Homo sapiens: one gene and its partners. The protein of the gene in region 1 purifies or fractionates together with the protein of each later gene. This does not show direct contact. Each region holds a gene or a part of one and is shown in the gene's direction. Other genes may lie near its edges.

Region 1 (3,500 bases):
TTGGTGAGGAGAGAGAATAGAAAGGATGAAAGCAAGTATTGGGTCCCTTATGTAGGGGTAATTTCCTTTTATTCTTATCTCATTATATAGTGTTTTCCTTCATGAGTCAATGAAATTACTAAATCAATTAACCAAATAAAATAGCGGTTGTTTTCCTTTGGTAACTTGGCCACATGTATTTGACACACCTAAGTCTTTCAGATAAGGTAGTTCTCATTCAGGGAAACACTGTTAGTCATTTTAGTAATTAATTGTCTAAGAAAGTGTTAAGCCCTACTCTGAGCCTGATCTGAATTCCTCATTGCTGGGTAGGGCTCCTTTTGGGAAATGACCATTAGATCAGTGTTGATAAGCAAATACAGAAACTGGAATGTTTCTGTATGTTCTATGTAGAAATACTGTATGAGACTGAGAACCTATACGTTCAACACATGAATGGATGAACACAAAGGCAGGAGATTGTTGTTATTATTATCATTATAGAGTATTGAACAATCATAGTGATGCTCTTTCAAAGGCATGAATACAACCCAGAGTACTCTAGCAATGTCTTAGTCCATTTTTGTTACTGTAACAAAATACCACAAACTAATTAATTTATAAATAATCAAATTTATTTCTCACAGTTCTGGAGGCTGGGAAGTCCTAGGTCAAGGTGCTAATTAGATTTGATGTCTGTTACACACTTGATCTCTGCTTGCAAGATGGTGCCTTCTTGCCATGTCTTCTTCACATGGAGGAAGAGACTAATGCTGTGTTCTCAGATGGTGGAAGGGAAAGAGCCAAAGGGACTAGGCTGCTCCCTTTGACCTCTTTTATAAGAGCACTAGTCCCATTCATGAGGGTTGAGTGCTGGTGACTTAATCACTTCCCCAAAGTACCTCCCTCTTAATACCATCACCTTGGCAGTTACATTCCAAAATCTGAATTTTGGAGGGACACAAACATTCAAGCCATAGCAAGCAATATATGTAAATTCTCCATAAGATTACTCCTTTAAATGTCAGCCTATCCAAATCACAGGCAGCAAATAGCAAGAATAAAAAGTCTTTATCCATATCTTTTAGCAGTAACTGAAATGATAGCAGTAAGTCTATTTTACTTGACCGAGAGCCTACGGACATTTGTAAGTTGATAGTTCCTTTATTTCTTCTGGAATATTACAGAAAGTACTTGTAAACATTTACATTAGTAAGATAATATGAAAAAGAGAACATTTAACAAATATCTCTCTATGTGAAAACATATTTACAGAAATGGTTTCCAAAGTATGCTCCACTTGCCAGAAGGAACAGGGGTGAGTAGACAGGGCTCCTGCAGCGCCACCTTAGTCGTTCCATTTGTAGGATTTAAGGATTAGGTTTCATTTGATGAAAGATATTTGACATAAAGATATGAAGACCAGGGCTGGGTGCGGTGGCTCACGCCTGTAATCCCAGCACTTTGGGAGGCCAAGGCGGGCAGATCATGAGGTCAGGAGTTTGAGACCAGCCTGGCCAACATGGTGAAACCCCATCTCTACTAAAAATAGAAAAAGTAGCTGGGCATGGTGGCCGGCACCTTTAATCCCAGCTACTCGGGAGGCTGAGGCAGGAGAATAGCTTGAAACCGGAAGGCAGAGGTTGCAGTGAGCTGAGATCTCGCCACTGCACTCCAGCCTGGGCAAAAGAGCGAAACTCCACCTCAAAAAAAAAAAAAAAAAAAACATGAAAGCCAAACTTGAAAATTTTGAAAACCACTGCTATTGGTGATTCTGGGCAGTTACTCATCTTCTTTGAAAAATCACAACTACAAAAAATGATTTTAAATTGTGGCAGGTGTTATTAAGTTACCTCAAATCAAATCACCAGACTGTATCTATGAGAAATATTACCAAGAAATGTGGTACCATTTTCTTTTCTCTAAAGCTTTAGGAATTGAGTAGATTATTTTTAAATGTATTTAAAATTAGGGCCAGGCAGGGTGGCTCACATCTCTAATCCCAGCACTTTAGGAGGCCAAGGCCAGTGGATCACTTGAGGTCAGGAGTTTGAGACCATTCTGGCCAACATAGTGAAACCCATCCCTATTAAAAATACAAAAATTAGCCGGGTGTGGTAGCTCACACCTGTAATCCCAGCACTTTGGGAGGCTGAGGCAGGTGGATCATGAGGTCAAGAGATCGAGACCATCCTGGCCAACATGGTGAAACCCCGTCTCTACTAAAAATACAAAAATTAGCAAGGGATGGTGGCATGTGCCTGTAGTCCCTCAGGAGGCTGAGGCAGGAGAATCACTTGAACCTGGGAGGTGGAGGTTGCAGTGAGCTGAGATCGTGCCATTGCAATCCCTCTTCAGCCTGGTGACAGAGTGAGACTCCTTCTAAAAAAAAAAAAAAAAAAAATACAAAAATTAGCCAGGCGTGGTGGTGCATGCCTCTAGTCCTAGCTACTTGGGAGGCCAAGGTAGGAGAATCACTTGAACCGAGGAGGCGGAGGTTGCAGTGAGCCAAGATCATGCCACTGCACTCCAGCCTGGGTGACAGAGCGAGAATCCATCTCAAAAAAACAACAACAACAACAACAAAATATATATATATATCAAATTACATAAGAAAATCCTACATAAGAAAATCTTTCTTAGAAAATAAGAAAGAAAGTCCAGCCACTCCTCTTCCATTTCCCTTCCCAAAGGCAACTGCTGTTAAAGGATTTTTTTTTTCTGTTTCCTTCTTAACAGGTACATATATCAAACTGCTTATATTCTTGATCTCTTAAGGACAATTCTTTCAAGTGGGGAGAAAAGGTTAAGAAAACTTTTTTCTTTTTTCTTTTTTTATACAGTCTTGCTCTGTCGCCCCCACTATAAATGACTCTTAGATTGCTGTCTTTTTCATCTCTTTCACTGTCATCAGTCACTAATGCTGCTCTCAATTTGCCTCTATCACAGCAATCTCTTCCTGAATTTTAATATTTAACACCTAATCTTCTGAGGGTTTGAAAAACAAAGGAGCAAAGTCATTAGAATTGTTTTCGAAATAAGGGCCGGGCATGGTGGCTCATGCCTGTAATCCCAGCATTTTGGGAGGCCTAGGCGGGTGGATCACTGAGGTCAGGAGTTGGAGACCAGCCTCGCTGACATGGCGAAAACCCATCTCTACTAAAAATACAAAAAATTAGCCAGGCGAGGTGGCGGGCACCTGTAATCCCAGCTACTCAGAAGGCCGAGGCAGGAGAGTCTCTTGAACCCAGGCGGCGGAGGTTGCAGTGAGCTAGGATCATGCCACTGCACTATAGCCTGGGCAACAGAGGGAGACTTCGTCTCAAAAATCAAACAAACAAACAAAACAAAATAAGGGTTAATGGGCTCTGCATGAGTCCTTAAGAGCCTCTCTATGAGTAAGGAGAATAAACTTTCTAATAAGCATTTCATGACATTTTTTATGGCCCTTCAAAGGTCATTTTTGTAATTTCAAGACCCAATGACTATAAATAATAAATACCATGAACATGGTCACTTTA
Region 2 (3,500 bases), on another chromosome or scaffold:
GAGGAAATGTGTTCTTCAGTGCACAGAATGCAGCAAAACAGCCATCTGATAAATGCTCTGCAAGCCCTCCCTTAAGACGGCAGTGTATTAGAGAAAATGGAAACGTAGCAAAAACGCCCAGGAACACCTACAAAATGACTTCTCTGGAGACAAAAACTTCAGATACTGAGACAGAGCCTTCAAAAACAGTATCCACTGCAAACAGGTCAGGAAGGTCTACAGAGTTCAGGAATATACAGAAGCTACCTGTGGAAAGTAAGAGTGAAGAAACAAATACAGAAATTGTTGAGTGCATCCTAAAAAGAGGTCAGAAGGCAACACTACTACAACAAAGGAGAGAAGGAGAGATGAAGGAAATAGAAAGACCTTTTGAGACATATAAGGAAAATATTGAATTAAAAGAAAACGATGAAAAGATGAAAGCAATGAAGAGATCAAGAACTTGGGGGCAGAAATGTGCACCAATGTCTGACCTGACAGACCTCAAGAGCTTGCCTGATACAGAACTCATGAAAGACACGGCACGTGGCCAGAATCTCCTCCAAACCCAAGATCATGCCAAGGCACCAAAGAGTGAGAAAGGCAAAATCACTAAAATGCCCTGCCAGTCATTACAACCAGAACCAATAAACACCCCAACACACACAAAACAACAGTTGAAGGCATCCCTGGGGAAAGTAGGTGTGAAAGAAGAGCTCCTAGCAGTCGGCAAGTTCACACGGACGTCAGGGGAGACCACGCACACGCACAGAGAGCCAGCAGGAGATGGCAAGAGCATCAGAACGTTTAAGGAGTCTCCAAAGCAGATCCTGGACCCAGCAGCCCGTGTAACTGGAATGAAGAAGTGGCCAAGAACGCCTAAGGAAGAGGCCCAGTCACTAGAAGACCTGGCTGGCTTCAAAGAGCTCTTCCAGACACCAGGTCCCTCTGAGGAATCAATGACTGATGAGAAAACTACCAAAATAGCCTGCAAATCTCCACCACCAGAATCAGTGGACACTCCAACAAGCACAAAGCAATGGCCTAAGAGAAGTCTCAGGAAAGCAGATGTAGAGGAAGAATTCTTAGCACTCAGGAAACTAACACCATCAGCAGGGAAAGCCATGCTTACGCCCAAACCAGCAGGAGGTGATGAGAAAGACATTAAAGCATTTATGGGAACTCCAGTGCAGAAACTGGACCTGGCAGGAACTTTACCTGGCAGCAAAAGACAGCTACAGACTCCTAAGGAAAAGGCCCAGGCTCTAGAAGACCTGGCTGGCTTTAAAGAGCTCTTCCAGACTCCTGGTCACACCGAGGAATTAGTGGCTGCTGGTAAAACCACTAAAATACCCTGCGACTCTCCACAGTCAGACCCAGTGGACACCCCAACAAGCACAAAGCAACGACCCAAGAGAAGTATCAGGAAAGCAGATGTAGAGGGAGAACTCTTAGCGTGCAGGAATCTAATGCCATCAGCAGGCAAAGCCATGCACACGCCTAAACCATCAGTAGGTGAAGAGAAAGACATCATCATATTTGTGGGAACTCCAGTGCAGAAACTGGACCTGACAGAGAACTTAACCGGCAGCAAGAGACGGCCACAAACTCCTAAGGAAGAGGCCCAGGCTCTGGAAGACCTGACTGGCTTTAAAGAGCTCTTCCAGACCCCTGGTCATACTGAAGAAGCAGTGGCTGCTGGCAAAACTACTAAAATGCCCTGCGAATCTTCTCCACCAGAATCAGCAGACACCCCAACAAGCACAAGAAGGCAGCCCAAGACACCTTTGGAGAAAAGGGACGTACAGAAGGAGCTCTCAGCCCTGAAGAAGCTCACACAGACATCAGGGGAAACCACACACACAGATAAAGTACCAGGAGGTGAGGATAAAAGCATCAACGCGTTTAGGGAAACTGCAAAACAGAAACTGGACCCAGCAGCAAGTGTAACTGGTAGCAAGAGGCACCCAAAAACTAAGGAAAAGGCCCAACCCCTAGAAGACCTGGCTGGCTTGAAAGAGCTCTTCCAGACACCAGTATGCACTGACAAGCCCACGACTCACGAGAAAACTACCAAAATAGCCTGCAGATCACAACCAGACCCAGTGGACACACCAACAAGCTCCAAGCCACAGTCCAAGAGAAGTCTCAGGAAAGTGGACGTAGAAGAAGAATTCTTCGCACTCAGGAAACGAACACCATCAGCAGGCAAAGCCATGCACACACCCAAACCAGCAGTAAGTGGTGAGAAAAACATCTACGCATTTATGGGAACTCCAGTGCAGAAACTGGACCTGACAGAGAACTTAACTGGCAGCAAGAGACGGCTACAAACTCCTAAGGAAAAGGCCCAGGCTCTAGAAGACCTGGCTGGCTTTAAAGAGCTCTTCCAGACACGAGGTCACACTGAGGAATCAATGACTAACGATAAAACTGCCAAAGTAGCCTGCAAATCTTCACAACCAGACCCAGACAAAAACCCAGCAAGCTCCAAGCGACGGCTCAAGACATCCCTGGGGAAAGTGGGCGTGAAAGAAGAGCTCCTAGCAGTTGGCAAGCTCACACAGACATCAGGAGAGACTACACACACACACACAGAGCCAACAGGAGATGGTAAGAGCATGAAAGCATTTATGGAGTCTCCAAAGCAGATCTTAGACTCAGCAGCAAGTCTAACTGGCAGCAAGAGGCAGCTGAGAACTCCTAAGGGAAAGTCTGAAGTCCCTGAAGACCTGGCCGGCTTCATCGAGCTCTTCCAGACACCAAGTCACACTAAGGAATCAATGACTAACGAAAAAACTACCAAAGTATCCTACAGAGCTTCACAGCCAGACCTAGTGGACACCCCAACAAGCTCCAAGCCACAGCCCAAGAGAAGTCTCAGGAAAGCAGACACTGAAGAAGAATTTTTAGCATTTAGGAAACAAACGCCATCAGCAGGCAAAGCCATGCACACACCCAAACCAGCAGTAGGTGAAGAGAAAGACATCAACACGTTTTTGGGAACTCCAGTGCAGAAACTGGACCAGCCAGGAAATTTACCTGGCAGCAATAGACGGCTACAAACTCGTAAGGAAAAGGCCCAGGCTCTAGAAGAACTGACTGGCTTCAGAGAGCTTTTCCAGACACCATGCACTGATAACCCCACGACTGATGAGAAAACTACCAAAAAAATACTCTGCAAATCTCCGCAATCAGACCCAGCGGACACCCCAACAAACACAAAGCAACGGCCCAAGAGAAGCCTCAAGAAAGCAGACGTAGAGGAAGAATTTTTAGCATTCAGGAAACTAACACCATCAGCAGGCAAAGCCATGCACACGCCTAAAGCAGCAGTAGGTGAAGAGAAAGACATCAACACATTTGTGGGGACTCCAGTGGAGAAACTGGACCTGCTAGGAAATTTACCTGGCAGCAAGAGACGGCCACAAACTCCTAAAGAAAAGGCCAAGGCTCTAGAAGATCTGGCTGGCTTCAAAGAGCTCTTCCAGACACCAGGTCACACTGAGGAATCAATGACC
Region 3 (3,500 bases), on another chromosome or scaffold:
CTTTTTGTATTTTTTGTAGAGATGGTATTTCACCATGTTGGCCAGGCTGGTCTTGAACTCCTGGCTTCAAGCAGTCTACCTGCCTCAGCCTCCCAAAGAGCTGGGATTATAGGCGTGAGCCACAGTGTGGTGCCTGGCCTGTGTTGTGGGAGGTTTTTAGGTTTTCTGATCTGTGGTAGCCAGAAATTGAACCACGTGAATGTCTGGTTGAATAGTGTTACTCTCTTCAGTAGCTTGCTTTTTTCCCCTTAACATATTTATGGATACTATCTCAAAAGTAGAACTGCTTCATTTTTAAAGTTAAATAGTATTTCATTGTATTTCCATGTTTTTGTAATGTACTATGATTTTTGCGGTCAGTCCCTACTGATAGACATTTAAATTGTTTCCAGACTTGGGCTGTTGTAAACATTGTTGCAGTCAGTATTCTTGTATACACTTGTTCATATGTGTGTGAGCTTATGTATGAGGATACATTCCTAGAAGTTATATCTTGGTTGAAGGAAATTTGCAAATTCAACTTTGATAGAACCCTCCAAAGAAATTAATTTACATTCCTGCCAACAATGTATGAAACAATTTGTTTCCCCATATTCTGGCAGTATATATGGTGGTATCAGTGTTTCTGATCTTTGCTGCTCTCATAAGTGAAAAGTTATATCCCATTTCATCTGTTATCTCCCTGTCCCACTGCTTTTTCGTCCCAGCCAGGACTATTTTGAAGCAAATATCAGATACCTTATAATTTAATTTAAAAATATTTGAGTATGCATCTCAGTAAAGAGATGTGAACTCTAAAACATAACTCAAATGTCCATCAGCAGATGAATGGGTAAGCAATATGTGGAATATACGTACAATGGAATATTTAACCTTAAAAAGTAATAAAATTCTGACACATTAGAATGTTACAATGTAGATAAACCTTGAAGACCTTATGCCAAATGAAATAGGCCCAGCACAAAAGAACAAATGCTTGTATGCTTCGGTCTATATGAAGTGCCCGGAATAGTCAAATTCATACAGACAGAAAGTAGAATAGTGATTATCAGAGGCCAAGGGAAGGGGAGATTGGGGAGTTATTTTTTTAACAGGTACAGAGTTTCAGTTTGGGAAGATGAAAAAGTCCTTGAGATCGATGGTTGTGATGGTTGCAAAACAATGTGAATGTACTTAATGCCACTAAAACTGTACACTTAAGATGTTTTAAATGGTAAATTTTATGTTATTTATATTTTACCACAATTAAAAAATAATGTCAGGTATGGTGGCTCGCACCTGTAGTCCCAGCTACTCCCGAGGCTGAGTTGGGAGTATTGCTTGAGGCTGGGAGTAAGAGGCTGCAGTGGATTATGATCACACCTGGGAATAGTCACTGCACTCCAGCCTCAGCAACATGAAGTGACCTCATCTCTTGAAAAGAAAGCAAAAAACAAACAACTCCCCCAAAACCACAATACCAATACTACACCTAAAATATTCATATTTTGTTTGTTTGTTTGTTTTGATATGGAGTCTCACTCTGTTGCCAGGCTGGAGTGCAGTTGCATGATCTCGGCTCACTGCAACCTCTGCCTCCTGAGTTCAAGCGGTTCTCCTGTCTCAGCCTCCCTAGTAGCAGGGACTACAGGTGCATGCCACCATGCCCAGCTAATTTTTGTATTTTTAGTAGAGGTGGGGTTTCACCATATTGGTCAGGCTGGTCTGGAACTCCTGACCTCAGGCAATCCACCTGCCTTGGCCTCCCAAAGTGCTGGGATTACAGGCGTGAGCCACCGTGCGTGGCCTAATTTTTAAATCATTATAAAACTCAGTTAAAACTATTTTCAATTATGAAACAATTTGAATTTACAGAAAAGTACAAAAGTAGTATAACAGATACCTTTGTACTTACCATTGAGATGAATAGATATTAACCTTTTGCCATGTTTGCTCTAGAGTTGCTTTTAGTCAAAAAACCAAAGAAAGGTCAACCCACCTTTCCCTTTCTCTTTTCCTCTCCAGACGTTAACCATTTTCCTGAAATTCCTGTGTGCACTGTCTCTCTCTCTCTCTCTCTCTCTCTCTCTCTCTCTCTCTCTCTCTCTCTCTATATATATATATATATATATATATTTTTTTTTTTTTTTTTTTTTTTTTTGAGATGGAAACTCGCTCTGTCCCCATCAGACTCAGGCTGGAGTGCAATGGTGCGATCTCGGCTCACTGCAACCTCCGCCTCCTGAGTTCAAGCAATTCTCCTGCCTCAGCCGCCTGAGTAGCTGGGATTACAGGCGGCCGCCACCATGCCTAGCTAATTTTCATATTTTTAGTAGAGATGGGGGTTTCACCATATTGGCCAGGCTGGTCTCGAACTCCTGACCTCCGGTGATCTTCCCGCCTCAGCCTCCCAGAGTGCTGGAATTACAGGCATGGGCTACCACGCCTGGCCCCACCAGGAATTTGAGGTCTTGTTTTTCTGCTTATTGAAACTTGGTGTTAATGAGAACACATGGACACCACGAAGGGAACAACACACACAGGGGCCTGTTGGGTCGGGGGCAGGGAGAGGGAGAGCATCAGAAAAAATAGCTAATGCATGCTGGGCTTCATACCTAGTTGATGAGTTGATAGGTGCAGCAAACCACCACAGCAACCATTTACCTATGTAACCTGTACATCCTGCACATGTAATTCAGAACTTAAAAAAAAAAAAACCAAAAGACACTTGGTGTTATATATATAAATTTATAATATTTTACCAATCTGTTGGATACAAACATCTTTTTAAAATTTATATTTTCTTGACTAGTAAAGTTGAACATCTTTTCATATGTTTTGGGGCCATTTGGGCTTCTTTCTTGGTGAACTGCTGGTTCATATTATTTGCCTGTTTTGTTTTTCTGTTTTACTGAGTTTTAAGAATGCTGTACATACTCTAGATGCTGATCCTTTGTTGTATAAATACTTAATTTCATCTTCTAGTTTGTGTCTTGTCTTTTTACCTTGAAATATATAATTTTGTTGTAAACGATTTTAAATTAAAAATGTAGTTTTTCTTCTACAGTTTGTATTATTTGTATCTTGTTAAAGAAATCTTCTTCACCTTGGTTTAAAAAAATGCTTATATGTTTTCTACTGAAAGATTTAAGGTTTTTCATTGTACACTTAGGTCTTTTGTCCATCTGGAATTTATTTTTACATGTAGTATGAGATTGAGGTCTGTATTAGTCTGTTTTCGCACTGCTATAAAGAACTGCCTGAACGGGCCCGGAGGCTCACGCCTGTAATCCCAGCACTTTGGGAAGCCGAGGCAGGTGAATCACCTGAGGTCGGGAGTTCGAGACCAGCCTGACCAACATGGAGAAACCCCATCTCTACTAAAAATACAAAATTAGCCGGGTGTGGTGGCGTGTGGCTGTAATCCCAGCTTCTCGGGAGGCTGAGGCAAGAGAATTGCTTGAACCTGGGAGGCAGAGGTTGCGGTGAGCCGCGATCACGCCATTGCACTCCAGCCTGGG
Region 4 (3,500 bases), on another chromosome or scaffold:
AAAAGATAATTTAATATATTTAAACTCAGAGGGAAAAAATGGATTTTTAAAGAAATGGTACTGGACATAACTGAATATCCAGCTGGAAGAAAGGAAAACGTGCATCATATGCAAACATTTTTCCAAAGGATGAAACAACTGAAATTTTTAAATGATCACAGTGAACATTCCTCAAGAAAATAGGAGACTTTGTATAGTCTAAGGGAGACCACCTTAACCAAGAAGGACAATGCGGAGACAGTGAAAGAGCAGACACTTCTATATGGCCAAGAGAGCATGAACGAAGTCAGTAGAACTCAAGAGATATTGAAAAATGTTCAAAGGTTAGGAGGATGACATTCACAGAAGAACAAATCCTAACATCTAACAATCACGGAAAACTTTTAATACACTATTCAAAAAGTGTTAAATAGGCCGGGTGCAGTGGCTCACGCCTGTAATCCCAGCACTTTGGGAGGCCAAGTCCTTGGATCATCTGAGGTCAGGAGTTCGACACCAGCCTGGCCAACATGATGAAACCCTGTCTCTACAAAAAATACAAAAATTAGCCAGACATGGTGGCAGGTGCCTGTAATCCCAGCTACTGGGGAGGCTGAGGCAGGATAATTGCTTGAACCTGGGAGGCGTGGGAGGCAGAGGTTGCAGTGAGCCGAGATCGCGCCATTGCATTCCAGCCTGGGTGACAAGAGTGAAACTCCGTCTCAAAAAAAAAAAAGTGTTAAACAGCAATGAGATACTGCCATTTTACATATCAGGTTCCCAAAAAAGATGAAAATGCATAGCTAGTAAAGACATATATTATAGTGTTTTTAGAAATAAATACGAATAGGTTACCCAACACACATATTTTGACCTTAAAAAAGGATTGTTTGTTTTAGAAACAGAGTCTCACTCTTGTCACCCAGGGTGGAATGCTGTGACGCAATCATAGCTCACTGCAGACTCAAACCCCTGGGCTCAAGTGACCCTCCTGCCTCAGCCTCCCGAGTAGTTAGGACTACAGGCACTTGCCACCACACCTGGCTAATTTTTTCTATTTTTTGTATAGATGGAGTCTTGCTTTGTTGCCCAGGCAGTTACTAAACTCCTGGCCTCAAGAGATCTTCCCAGCCAGGCATGGTGGCTCACGCCTGTAATCACAGCATTTTGAGAGGCCGAGGCGGGTTGATCACTTGAGGTCAGGAGTTCAAGACCAGCCTGTCCAACATGGTAAAACCCTGCCTCTACTAAAAATACAAAAATTAGCTGGGCATGGTGGCACACGCCTGTAATCCCGGCTACTCGGGAGGCTGAGACAGGAGAATTGCTTGAACCTGGGAGGCTGAGGTTGCAGTAAGCTGAGATTGCACCACTGCACTCCAGCCTGGGCGACAGACTCGGTCCAAAAAAAAAAAAAAAAAAAAAAAGATCCTCTTGCTGTGGCCTCCCAATGTGCTGGGATTACAGGTGTGAGCCACCACGCCCAGCCCTGTTTGTTTTTTTGAGACAGGGTTTCATCCTGTTGCCCAGGCTGGAGTACAGTGGTGCAATCATGGCTCACTGTAACCTTGAATCCTGTGTTCAGGGGATCCTCTGGCCTCAGCCTCCTGAGTAGCTAGGAATACAGGCATGTACCATCATGCCTGGCTAATTTTTATTTGGTAGAGACAGTGTCTCACTATGTTTCCCAGGCTGGTCTTGAACTCTTGACTTCAAGTGATCCTCCCACCTTGGCCTTCCAAAGTACTAGGACTATAAGTGTGAGCCAACAAACAAATAAGGTTGTTTTTAAATGATAGAATACCCCGCATTTAAAAATATTTTGGGATACCAGTTTTCATGGAAGACCCTGTTTGTTTTCATTCCTGGCAAATGCTTATGGTTTGGATATGGAAAGCATGGGAAGGAAAAAGTGTAGTTTCCATAAATGCCAAAGTATCAGCTTGAAATCAGTTTGTGTTTATGATGTGCTATGTGGTCTTAAAAACGAGTATGTCCTACAATAAAGATTAGAAACAGCATATTAAAAGGGCATACACTGGGCCAGGCACAGTGGCTCACACCTGTAATCCCATGACTTTGGGAGGCTGAGGTGGGCAGATCACCTGAGGTCAGGAGTTCGAGACCAGCCTGGCCAACATGGAGAAACGCCGTCTCTACTGAAAATACAAAAAATTAGCCGGGCATGGTGGCAGGCACCTGTAATCCCAGCTACTCAAGAGGCTGAAACAAGAGAATCGCTTGAACCTGGGAAGTGGAGGTTGCAGTGAGCTGACATTATGCCGCTGCACTCCAGCCTGGGTGGCAAAGTGAGACTCTGTCTCAGATAGATAGATAGCTAGATTAGATAGATAGATAGATAGATAGATAGATAGATAGATAGATAGATAGACTGTCTCAGATAGATAGATCGATCGATCGATAGACTGTCTCAGATAGATAGATAGATATAAATAGATAGATAGATAAATTCATACATTGTACCTGAGAAAAGTGTCACAGAATGACCAATACTGAGACATACTTTAGTAAAATTGCTGGATTTTAAAGACAGGAAAGTCCTTTGAGCATCCAAGCAAAAAAGGTAAAGTCATTTATAAGGAAAAGAAAATAAGAATATCATCAGACTTTTCAACAGAATTTTTTGTGCCAAAGGAAAAAATAGCTTAAGATACTCAATGATCTAAGGAAATGTCAACCAAGGATTTTTATATCCAGCCAAACTGACTTCCAGATACAAAGACTGCACAGAAACTTAACAACTTAACAAGAATTCAGTGACTTTTCAGTCCTTCCTGAGAGATCTCCTGGAAAATGAATTTCAAATGACCAAAAACCACTCCCCGCCCCAAAAAAAACAAAACAGAGAAACACTGATATAAGGACTGGCAGTGAGCACTAAACATGTATTTATTTTTAGATTTAAATTCAAATGAGGGCTCTAGGGGAGAAAATATTTCATGTGTAACGTCTGTAAGACATGTCAGTATAAATACAATGCATCTGTTTTAAAAAATGAATGGACAGTGGGGGAGAACATATGCAAAATATTTAGCTGTTTTCAGTAATCATAAAAGTGATGAGTAATCCCAGCACTTTGGGAGGCTGAGGTAGGCGGATCACAAGGTCAGGAGACTGAGACCATCCTGGCCAACATGGTGAAACCTCGTCTCTACTAAAAATACATAAAAAAAAAAAAATTAGCTTGGTGTGGTGATGCAGCCTGTAATCCCAGCTATTTGGGAGGCTGAGGCAGGAGACTAGGTTGAACCCGGGAGGCGGAGATTGCAGTGAGCTGAGATCGCACCACTGCACTCCAGCCTGGCGACAGAGCGAGACTCCGTCTCAAAAGAAAAAAAAAAGTGATGAAAACATTAGTCTTGTTATTCTGAGGGCTGGTGTGTGTGTATGAGAGAGAGATGTGGAATGAAGTAAATGAATAACGATGTGATATTCTAATTTTACCACCTGTGATATCCTGGAGAAGCAGAATTCTCCTGGAATAAAGAAGACATAGATAT

The links. Proteins that work in one complex are often made in the same cells at the same time.
Region 2: the proteins of SLC9B2 (region 1) and MKI67 purify together in Homo sapiens (affinity purification with mass spectrometry; one large-scale study listed by BioGRID and IntAct). This does not show direct contact.
Region 3: the proteins of SLC9B2 (region 1) and UBR3 purify together in Homo sapiens (affinity purification with mass spectrometry; one large-scale study listed by BioGRID and IntAct). This does not show direct contact.
Region 4: the proteins of SLC9B2 (region 1) and FBXO21 purify together in Homo sapiens (affinity purification with mass spectrometry; one large-scale study listed by BioGRID and IntAct). This does not show direct contact.

The regions. Positions count from the first base shown.
Region 1 is NC_000004.12:103,070,262-103,073,761, reverse strand, and holds part of SLC9B2 (sodium/hydrogen exchanger 9B2), read left to right. Parts: intron 1-3,500. UniProt on the Homo sapiens protein: Electroneutral Na(+) Li(+)/H(+) antiporter that extrudes Na(+) or Li(+) in exchange for external protons across the membrane. Uses the proton gradient/membrane potential to extrude sodium.
Region 2 is NC_000010.11:128,105,924-128,109,423, reverse strand, and holds part of MKI67 (proliferation marker protein Ki-67), read left to right. Parts: coding exon 1-3,500. UniProt on the Homo sapiens protein: Protein that associates with the surface of mitotic chromosomes and acts both as a chromosome repellent during early mitosis and chromosome attractant during late mitosis.
Region 3 is NC_000002.12:169,833,954-169,837,453, forward strand, and holds part of UBR3 (E3 ubiquitin-protein ligase UBR3), read left to right. Parts: intron 1-3,500. UniProt on the Homo sapiens protein: E3 ubiquitin-protein ligase which is a component of the N-end rule pathway. Does not bind to proteins bearing specific N-terminal residues that are destabilizing according to the N-end rule, leading to their ubiquitination and subsequent degradation.
Region 4 is NC_000012.12:117,180,471-117,183,970, reverse strand, and holds part of FBXO21 (F-box only protein 21), read left to right. Parts: intron 1-3,500. UniProt on the Homo sapiens protein: Substrate-recognition component of the SCF (SKP1-CUL1-F-box protein)-type E3 ubiquitin ligase complex.